Regions from separate parts of the Homo sapiens genome. Here regions 2 and 3 are each linked to region 1. Evidence: fine-mapped expression QTL. A gene starts in region 1. Each other region holds a variant in brackets. All regions are shown on one strand. Distances are from middle to middle. Region 1 holds the start of SLC51A (solute carrier family 51 member A). Region 2 has its middle 20 kb from the start of ZDHHC19. Region 3 has its middle 34 kb from the start of CEP19.

Region 1 (2,672 bases):
AGGGGGATGCAGCTTGACTCTTGGGAGAGACTTTGAGGTGTCTGGGCACAGGAGTGGGGAGTCCTCCGGGTACCCCATCAGGGACTGCTTCCACTGCTTGTATGGCCTCACCAGCCCAGCGCAGGAAGCCCCCTCTCCCTTCCCAGAATTGACCCTCTGCACCCTCTCCTGGGCCCTCTTCTCACTACCTCCATCTCCACCATGCCCCAACAGAGCCCCTCCCCCAGGCCCCTTTGGCCGCTCTCCACACCCCACAGCTTTCTGTCTGACCTGGTTTCTTAGCCTCTCTGGACCTCAGCCTCCTTATCTGTAAAATGGGAATAAGGATACTACTTCCCTTGTAACGCGGTGGTAAAGTTTAAATAAGCTAAGGAACACACTGCATGTCCTGCGGGCCCTGGCACACCAGACATGCTGACAGACGCTGGCTGCTTTCATCAGCTATGCAACCAAATTCTAAGGGGCCCTTCGTATGTGTCAGGCTGCGTGCCAGGAACCTAGAGGTACCACCGTACCACAGTACAAGATGCTGTGTCTGGCTTCGAAGAGATTTCAGTCTATGTGGAGAGAGAGAAAAGGGAAGCTATCAGCCAATAAAATCGTTTGCAAGCCTGTAATTCAGCAGGTTTTCAAGACCTGTCAAATGCCCAGCAATCTCACTCTGCAACTCTGCCTCTTAAATACAGCATCTTCCGGCCCAGCGTGGGGGTGGCTAAGCCCATCATCCAGATGTGATGAACTGGGGTCTGGGAAACCCACACCGGCCTCATCTGGCTTTTCCAGCCTGTCCTCCCTTCCACACATCAGGCTGACAGCACCAAACACGGCCGAGGCCTCAGCCCTGAGTCTCCCCGCTGCAGAGTGCCCAAGCCTGAGTTCCAGCAGGTTCTTCAGGGGCCGCTGACCAGGGAACACTGCGGTGAGGAGCGAGGACTTCGTCCCCACCCCGGCCCAGGGCAGGGGCTTCGTGGTGAGCCCACCCCACCCCAGAAGGCTCCTGGAAGGGCAGGGCAGACTGGCAGCAAAATCCTATAGGATGGGCCGGGCCAGAGGCAAGGGGTGGCCAAAGGCACCTGTCCAAGAGGTGGGAGGGACCACACCTGGGGGCAGGGACGAGTCAGGCACAGGGAACTCCGCCAGCCTAGAGGATCAAATTCCTCCGGGGTGAACTCTGAGATAGAAAGTTGGCCCGGGAAGCTCAAGGAGGGAGAGCGGCAGAGGGGAAGACTCTGCAATTCTGCTTGCCCCCCACCCCGGCCCAGGCAAGCCACCCTGCCCCCGGCCCCCACCTGCCCGCCCCGCCTGCCCTTCCTCACCCCGGTGCCTGCGGGATTGCTGGAGAGAACGCGGCGATGGAGCCGGGCAGGACCCAGATAAAGCTTGACCCCAGGTAAGTGAGGGCGGCGGGCCCTGGGCCAGTCGCTGGGCAGCGGTGGCCCCTATCCCGCGGCCTGTCCTCTCTCCCTCCCAGAGCCCTTTGGCGGCCGCACTCAGAATGAGACAGGACTGGAAATGCTCTAGCTGTTCCTAGGTCCTCAGGGACAACGTGGGTTTGGGCCAGGGTGTGACACTCCAGGGCCTCGGCCTTGCCCCCCAGCGTGGGGAGAGAAAGGTCGCAGAGCGGGGGCTGTGGAAGGCATTCGCAGAGGAAATGGCAGCATCCCTCAGCAGCAGGGGGCCCGTCCGTCTGTAAGGACTCACCCTTCCTCTGGGATCCTGCTCTTCCTCTCTGGTCAGTCCCTGGGCTGCTGCCCGACCCGCATGGAGAGAATCCACGGTGGGCTCTTCAGGCACGGCAGCCAGGCACAGCCTGGCTAGGTGGCAGCTTGTCTTACTCCCCCACCTGGGCCAGTTCTCCACTCCCTCTAAGAAAAGGGCCCTGAGGCCGGGCGCCTGTAATCCCAGCACTTTGGGAGGCTGAGGCGGGAGTCCAGGAGTTTAAGCCCAGTTCCAGTTTGAGTCCTGGAGTTCGAGACCAGTGTCTGAGCAACATGGCGAAATCCTGTCTCTACCAAAAATATAAAAAATTAGCCGGGCCTGGTGGCGTGCACCTGTAGTCCCAGCTTACTCATGGGGATGGGGGTTGAGTAGATCACTTGAGCCCAGGAGGTCAAGGCTGCCTGTATGAGCCAAGACAGACCACTGCACTCCAGCCTGGACAACAGAGCAAGACCCTGTCTCAAAAAGAAAAAAAAAGAAAGAAAAAGGAAGGAAGGAAGGAAGGAAAGAGAAGGGGAAGGAAGAGAGAAAGAGAAAGAGAGAGCAGAAGGAAGGAAGGAAGGAGAAGGGGAAGGGGAAGGGAGAGAGAAAGAGAAAGAGAGAGTGAAAGGAAGGAAGGAAGGAAAGAAAGAAAGAGAGAGAAAGAGGCCCTGAGGGGAAATGGACAAAGTCCTGCACTCAGGAGTGGTTGAGGGTCCAGTGTGCAACCCTCCCCCTTCCCCCAGCCCCCATGGTTCTGAGCACAGGCTGGTGTCTCGCCAGGTACACAGCAGATCTTCTGGAGGTGCTGAAGACCAATTACGGCATCCCCTCCGCCTGCTTCTCTCAGCCTCCCACAGCAGCCCAACTCCTGAGAGGTGAGTGGGGACCCTCCTCAGAGGGAACTGAGAGGAGGGAAACCAGGATAGCTGAGTGGAGCTGGGGAGAGGCGGCCCTGAGCTGGTGCACCTGGG
Region 2 (2,801 bases), 25 kb before region 1:
ATAGATACTTGGTGGGGAAGAGAGGGAGCTGAGAAGGTCACCCAAGAAAGGTGAGCCGGGCCGTCTGCCTGGGAGTCAGAATGAGGTGGCCCATCCTCGGACTTGACCATTTCCCAATGCCCTGTTTAATTTAATTTTTTATTTTATTATATAGGGACAGGGTCTCAATATATTGCCCAGGCTAGTCTCGAACTCCTGGACTCACATGACCCACTTGCCTCGGCCTCCCAAAGTGCTGGGACTACAGGCATGAGCCACCACCCCCACCCCCCAGATAATCTAAATTCAGAGCCTGCAAAAGGCTCAGGGCCCAAGGAGAGAAAATGGAGACAGAAGAGAAAGGGAATTTCTCCCTCCAGGTCCCCACGCCTGAGTCAGACCCTCTCACTGTTTCCTTTACAACCACCGCACACCCACCTGGACCTGGCCTAAGAAAAGGAATACAAGTCCATGAAGGTTCTCCCTTCTTTTTCTTCTTTTTCTTCTTCTTTTTCGTCTTTTCTTCTTCTTCTTTTTCCTCCTCCTCCTCTTCTTCTTCTTCTTTCTTCTTCTGTCGCCCAGGCTGGAGTGTAATGACGCGATCTTGGCTCACGGCAACCTCCACTTCCGTATCTCAAGGAATTCTCCTGCCTCAGCCTCTGGGACTACAGGTGTGCGCCACCACACCCGGCTAATTTTTGTATTTTTTGTAGAGACAGGGTTTCGCTATGTTGGCCGGGCTGGTCTTGAACTCCTGACCTCAGGTGATCCGCCCACCTCGGCCTCCCAAAGCGCTGGGATTACAGGCATGAGCCACCATGCCCGGCCCATCATGTACCCTTCTGATCCTACAAGCGCACTGTGAGGTCGGCCGGGCATGGAGTTTGGTTTCAACTTCACGTTGAGATCGGAGCAGCTCTGAGAGGTCGGGGCTTCATCCAGGGCCACACATCCAGCTGGCAGCAGAGCCACCTGTCCACCCAGCTCTCCGGATGCCCGGCCTGTGCTCCCTACACAGCCGCTTACTGCCCTGCCAGGAAAAGGCAGGCAGGAGGGATCTTTCCACTCCCATTAGGGGCTGAGGAACAGGCATCTAGGAGCTAAATCTGACTGGGGGAGTCTCCCAGCCCAGACAGCCCAGGGCCCTGCCCAGGGGTCAGTGCTTTCACTTGCTGACCTCATGCCTCCACCACTACTCGGGGACAGATGAGGTTCAGCATGACTCAGGTTCAGCCAAAGGATACTAATGGGCCATGGAATAAATCCTGCCTGGAGCCCTGTTCACCTCAGGACTTGTCCTCAGACCATGGACCTTCCTCCCTGGTCACTCAGTCAAGGAATCGCAGGAGATCAGTGCAAGAGTAGCTCTGAATGGGCCGGGCGCGGCGGCTCACGCCTGTAATCCCAGCACTTTGGGAGGCCGAGGCGGGTGGATCACGAGGTCAGGAGATCGAGACCATCCTGGCCAACACGGTGAAACCCCGTCTCTACTAAAAATACAAAAGATTGTCCGGGCGTGGTGGCG[G/C]GCGCCTGTAGTCCCAGCTACTCGGGAGGCCGAGGCAGGAGAATGGCGTGAACCCGGGAGGCAGAGGCTGCAGTGAGCCGAGATCGCACCACCGCACTCCAGCCTGGGCGACAGAGCGAGACTCCGTCTCAAAAAAATAAAAAAATAAAAATAAAAAACAGTAGTCCTGAAGCCCCCAGCCCAGCACACCTGGTCTTTGCAGGCCCGAGACACCCACAAGAGTAACAGCAGCGCCTCATTCAGGAGGCTGAGGACTAAGTGAGCAAACGCAGGCCGAGTGCTTCCCCAGGCCTGGACCTCCATTAGCATTCAACTGTGTTGTCATTGCTGTCATTGCTACACTGGAGTCAGATCACTAGGCCTTTAGGAGGAAGAACGTGCCCTTCCTGTTGACAGGCCGGGCCTCTGACCCAGGCGTCTCCTCTCCGTGGGGTGGCAGGAAGGGCCCAGGACTCAGGTGGCAGATCAGGGACCCCCTGGCCTGGCCTCTGCTCAGCTGTGTGATCTTGGGGAAGCCCCGCCTTGCGTCCCCCACCGCCTTGGTTTTCTTCTTGCTGAGAAGTGAGGGAGGTGGCTGGCTGTTCAGCAGGGCCCCTTCCACTTTGGGAATCCCCAGTTTCAGCAGCAGAACTTCCCCAAGCAGAAAGCTGCTGGGAAAGTGGGTGCCCAGGTGGGAGGCGGAAGCCCCAGGGAGAGGCAGACGAAGGTGCCCTGTGCGGGCCCCGCCTCCAGCCTGGTGGACAGTGCCCTGGGTTTCCATGCCCAGACCAGGGCCTTCCTGGAACCGCAGCCAGGACGTGAGAAGCTGTCAGACAGCTGCCTCTGTGTTCCTGGAAGCTGTGGTTCAGGAAAAGTGGGAGGGAGAGAAGGAGGGAGAGAGCAATCGAGGGAGAGCAGAAGAGTGTGAAGAGAAAGAGAAAGACAGGAGGAGGAGCAAGGGGAAGGGAGGAGGCAAGCGTGGAAAGGTGAGAAGAGGTGAGGCAGAGGCCTACGTGGAGAGGCAGAGCCTGGGACGCTGCCTGCGGGGGAGGTCAGGTGAGGAGCAGGGAGGGCGGAGGCTGTGAGCAGCCACCCTGGAACAGAGCTCGGAACACCATTGCTTTTGCCTTCCTTCAGCCTGAAACACTGCCTGGCCACAAAGCAGAAGCAGCAGTTGCTTTCTTAACAGGAGGCAGAGCCGTTGTTGGGTGACCCTCTTCTCATTCCCTTGAAGAATCTCAGCCCATGCCCCCATCCCTTCTGGCCTGGAGACACCAGTGTTGGGGAGTTTTGTGTAAAACAGTAACAAAGACCTCGT
Region 3 (2,801 bases), 460 kb after region 1:
TGAGGAAGCAGCCTTCCCTTCCTGTCCCCACAACCTTTATCTGATTGTTTATAACTGTGAGCTTCCAGTCTGTGAGAACACCTATGTGGATTTTGTTTGTTATCACTGAGGGTTTCAGCTAACTCATAGCCACAAAGTCATTGGACTATTGGACTTAGAGGGCTATTGAGCCCTCTAAGATGGGTATGTCTCAGCTCTCTTTCTCATCCAGGTGCCAGCACCTACCTGTGAGATACTGACCAGGAATCTCTTTCCTAACACCCCTAAAATAGGCTGGAATCTGCCCCCCACCCCTCAAGCCAGCTGACAGCAACATCAGGACAAGTTTAGATGTTTCTAAGCTGACAAAGGGCACTCTGCTTGGGAACTGCCCACTGGTTTCTTGGTATCAATAAACTAGAGCTTCACCACCCACCCCCACATCCTCAAATCTGATGTCCTAATCAGGGAATTACAGCTCGGTCTTCCCTTATGATTTCAACATCATAAACCTTTTAGGTCTGTTCACTTCTAGAAAGATGCATTTATTTGCTTGAGGCTTATTTAAAGTCCAAATACACAGAAATCTTACTCCTTGTTTGAGCAAATCCCTAAGACATTCATTTATTCAGCAAATATTTACCAAGCTGCTGCTCTGTGCCAGGCACTGCTTAGCTCTGGGGATACATACAAAGCTATATTTTTAATTCATTGGTTGTCACTTACAAGTTACTTTTCTTCACTTCCATCCCCCATCCCTCCACTGTTCTTGACTCCCCCAAGTATCCTGAGAGCTGAGTGCTGAACTACTCCCGTCAGCACTGGGTCAAGGTTCTCTGTGCTGCATTTGGACAATGACAAGAAGGGTGTGTGGCATATGTATCATATAAGCTGTTTTCTGTGTCTTCATTTTTCTTAATTTAATGTGCTCCTGAAAGAGGAATCAGTTTCTCTTCCTGTGTCACCCATGCATTTGCCACATACTATAACACAATAGGCCATTTCTGTTCTTAGTCTCAAAGCTGGATGACACAGAACATCAGTTTGCCACATATCTAATCATCCAACAGACACATTAGTCCAGACTCTGGGCTCAGA[A/T]TCTCAAAGAAACTAGAAAACAAGTAATATTGGCTTAGCCCTAGTGCCAGTCAGTTGCCTCTTTACTTTCAGATCCCTTCTCCACCCTTTCCTGTTTTGCTCTGTATCCATCCATACTGATATAAATAAATGTCTAAATAAATTAATAAGTGGGAAAGAAGAATTATAAATAATGTGTGTAGATTCTTTCCATTCTAGGAAGTGAATCTTATCCTCCTCTGCTGCCCTCCCTCAACTTTGGAGTGTGGTTGGACTTAGTGATGTACTTCCAAAAAATAAAATATGGAGAGGCAAAAATAGTAACGTCACAGTAAAGCAACCTGGCAGATACTACTTGAACCGAGTGATGAAGGTTAACATCACCAATGGTGTCATGCAAGTAGTATGTACCCCTTGATACGATGTGATGAGAACGGCACATCACCTCTGGTATTCCTTCCAATAACCCATCACCCCAGTCCTATAATGAGAAAAATACAAGACAACCCAATCTGAAATACATTCTACAAAATATCTGACCAGTCCTCTTCAAAACTATCAAGGTCATGAAACACAAGGAAAGCCTAAGAAAGTAATAACTAATCACAATACAGTATTCTGGATTGGATCCTGGAAGAAACAAAGATCACTAATGAAAATATCTGGTGAACTATGAGTAAAGTCTGGAGTTTATTAATAGCAATGTATCAATGTTGTTTTCTTAGTTTTGACAAATGTATTGGATAAACAAATTGGGTGAGAGGTATATGGAAACGTTTTGTAGTATCTTCAGAACTTTTCTGTGACTCTGAAATTATTCTAAAACAAAAAAATTTTAGTAAACTCTCAAGAGGAAAAAAATGAATTACCAATGTCAGGAATTAAAATGAGAATATTGCTACAGACCCTACAACAATAGAAGATAATACGATGTTGTAACTATCTTTGCACAATAATTTGAATAATTTAGATGAAATCAGCAGAGGCTTTGGAAAATACAAGTAAATAAATATGAGATGAGAAGAAAGAATAAAATCTGAATAGTCCTGTAGGTTAGATTTGTAATTAAAACCGTTCTACAAAGAAAACTCCATGTCCAGATGGCTTTACTAGTGAATGACTCAAAATATTGAAGAAAGAAAAATATTAATATTCTTCAGAAATTTTTTAAAACGATAGAGGTTCATGACCAACATGGTGAAACGCCATCTCTCCTAAAAATACAAAAATTAGCTAGGTATGGTGGCTCATGCCTATAATCCCAGCTACTCGGAAGGCTGAGGTAGGAGAATTGCTTGAACCTGGGAGACGGAGGTTGCAGTGAGCTGAGATCGCGCCACTGCACTCCAGCCTGGGCGACAGAGCAAGACTCTGTCTCAAAAAAGAAAAAAAAAAGGAAAAGTTAATATATTCCAACATGTTTTATGAGGTGGGCAAAATCCTGATATCGAGACTCAAAACCAGACATTGCAAAAAGAGAAAATTGTTGGACGACCTCTTTAATGAGCTTGGATATAAATATTCTCAACAAAATATTAACAAAGCAAATCTGGCAATATACCCCAAAAAGACTTCACACCTTGCTCAGTAATGCCAGGTTTATTCTAGTAATGCAAGATTAGTATAACATTTGAAAGTCAATCAACACAAATTTTACATGAACAGACTAAAAGAATAATCATGTAATCATCTCAATATGCAAAAAAGCACCTGAAAAAATTCAATACCTGTTAATGTAATAACAC

The links. PIP is the estimated chance that this variant, and not a neighbour inherited with it, causes the effect.
Region 2: its variant is the best candidate, but not a certain one, in a credible set for the expression of SLC51A in whole blood (TOPMed, PIP 0.60).
Region 3: its variant is the best candidate, but not a certain one, in a credible set for the expression of SLC51A in vagina (GTEx, PIP 0.74).

Annotation. Positions count from the first base shown.
Region 1 is chr3:196,215,361-196,218,032 of GRCh38, forward strand. SLC51A (solute carrier family 51 member A) reads left to right here and starts at 1,174. Exons shown (of 9, transcript NM_152672.6): 1 at 1,174-1,390; 2 at 2,482-2,576. The coding sequence starts at 1,353. All of the region lies in intron 2 of LOC105374304 (a long non-coding RNA gene), which reads right to left.
Region 2 is chr3:196,190,344-196,193,144 of GRCh38, forward strand. No RefSeq gene overlaps it. Among named protein-coding and RNA genes, the nearest start is that of ZDHHC19, 20 kb to the right of the region's middle. RefSeq lists enhancers at 517-1,135, 2,096-2,165, 2,121-2,784. The variant G/C (reference allele first, on the strand shown) is at 1,505.
Region 3 is chr3:196,677,160-196,679,960 of GRCh38, forward strand. No RefSeq gene overlaps it. Among named protein-coding and RNA genes, the nearest start is that of CEP19, 34 kb to the right of the region's middle. The variant A/T (reference allele first, on the strand shown) is at 1,078.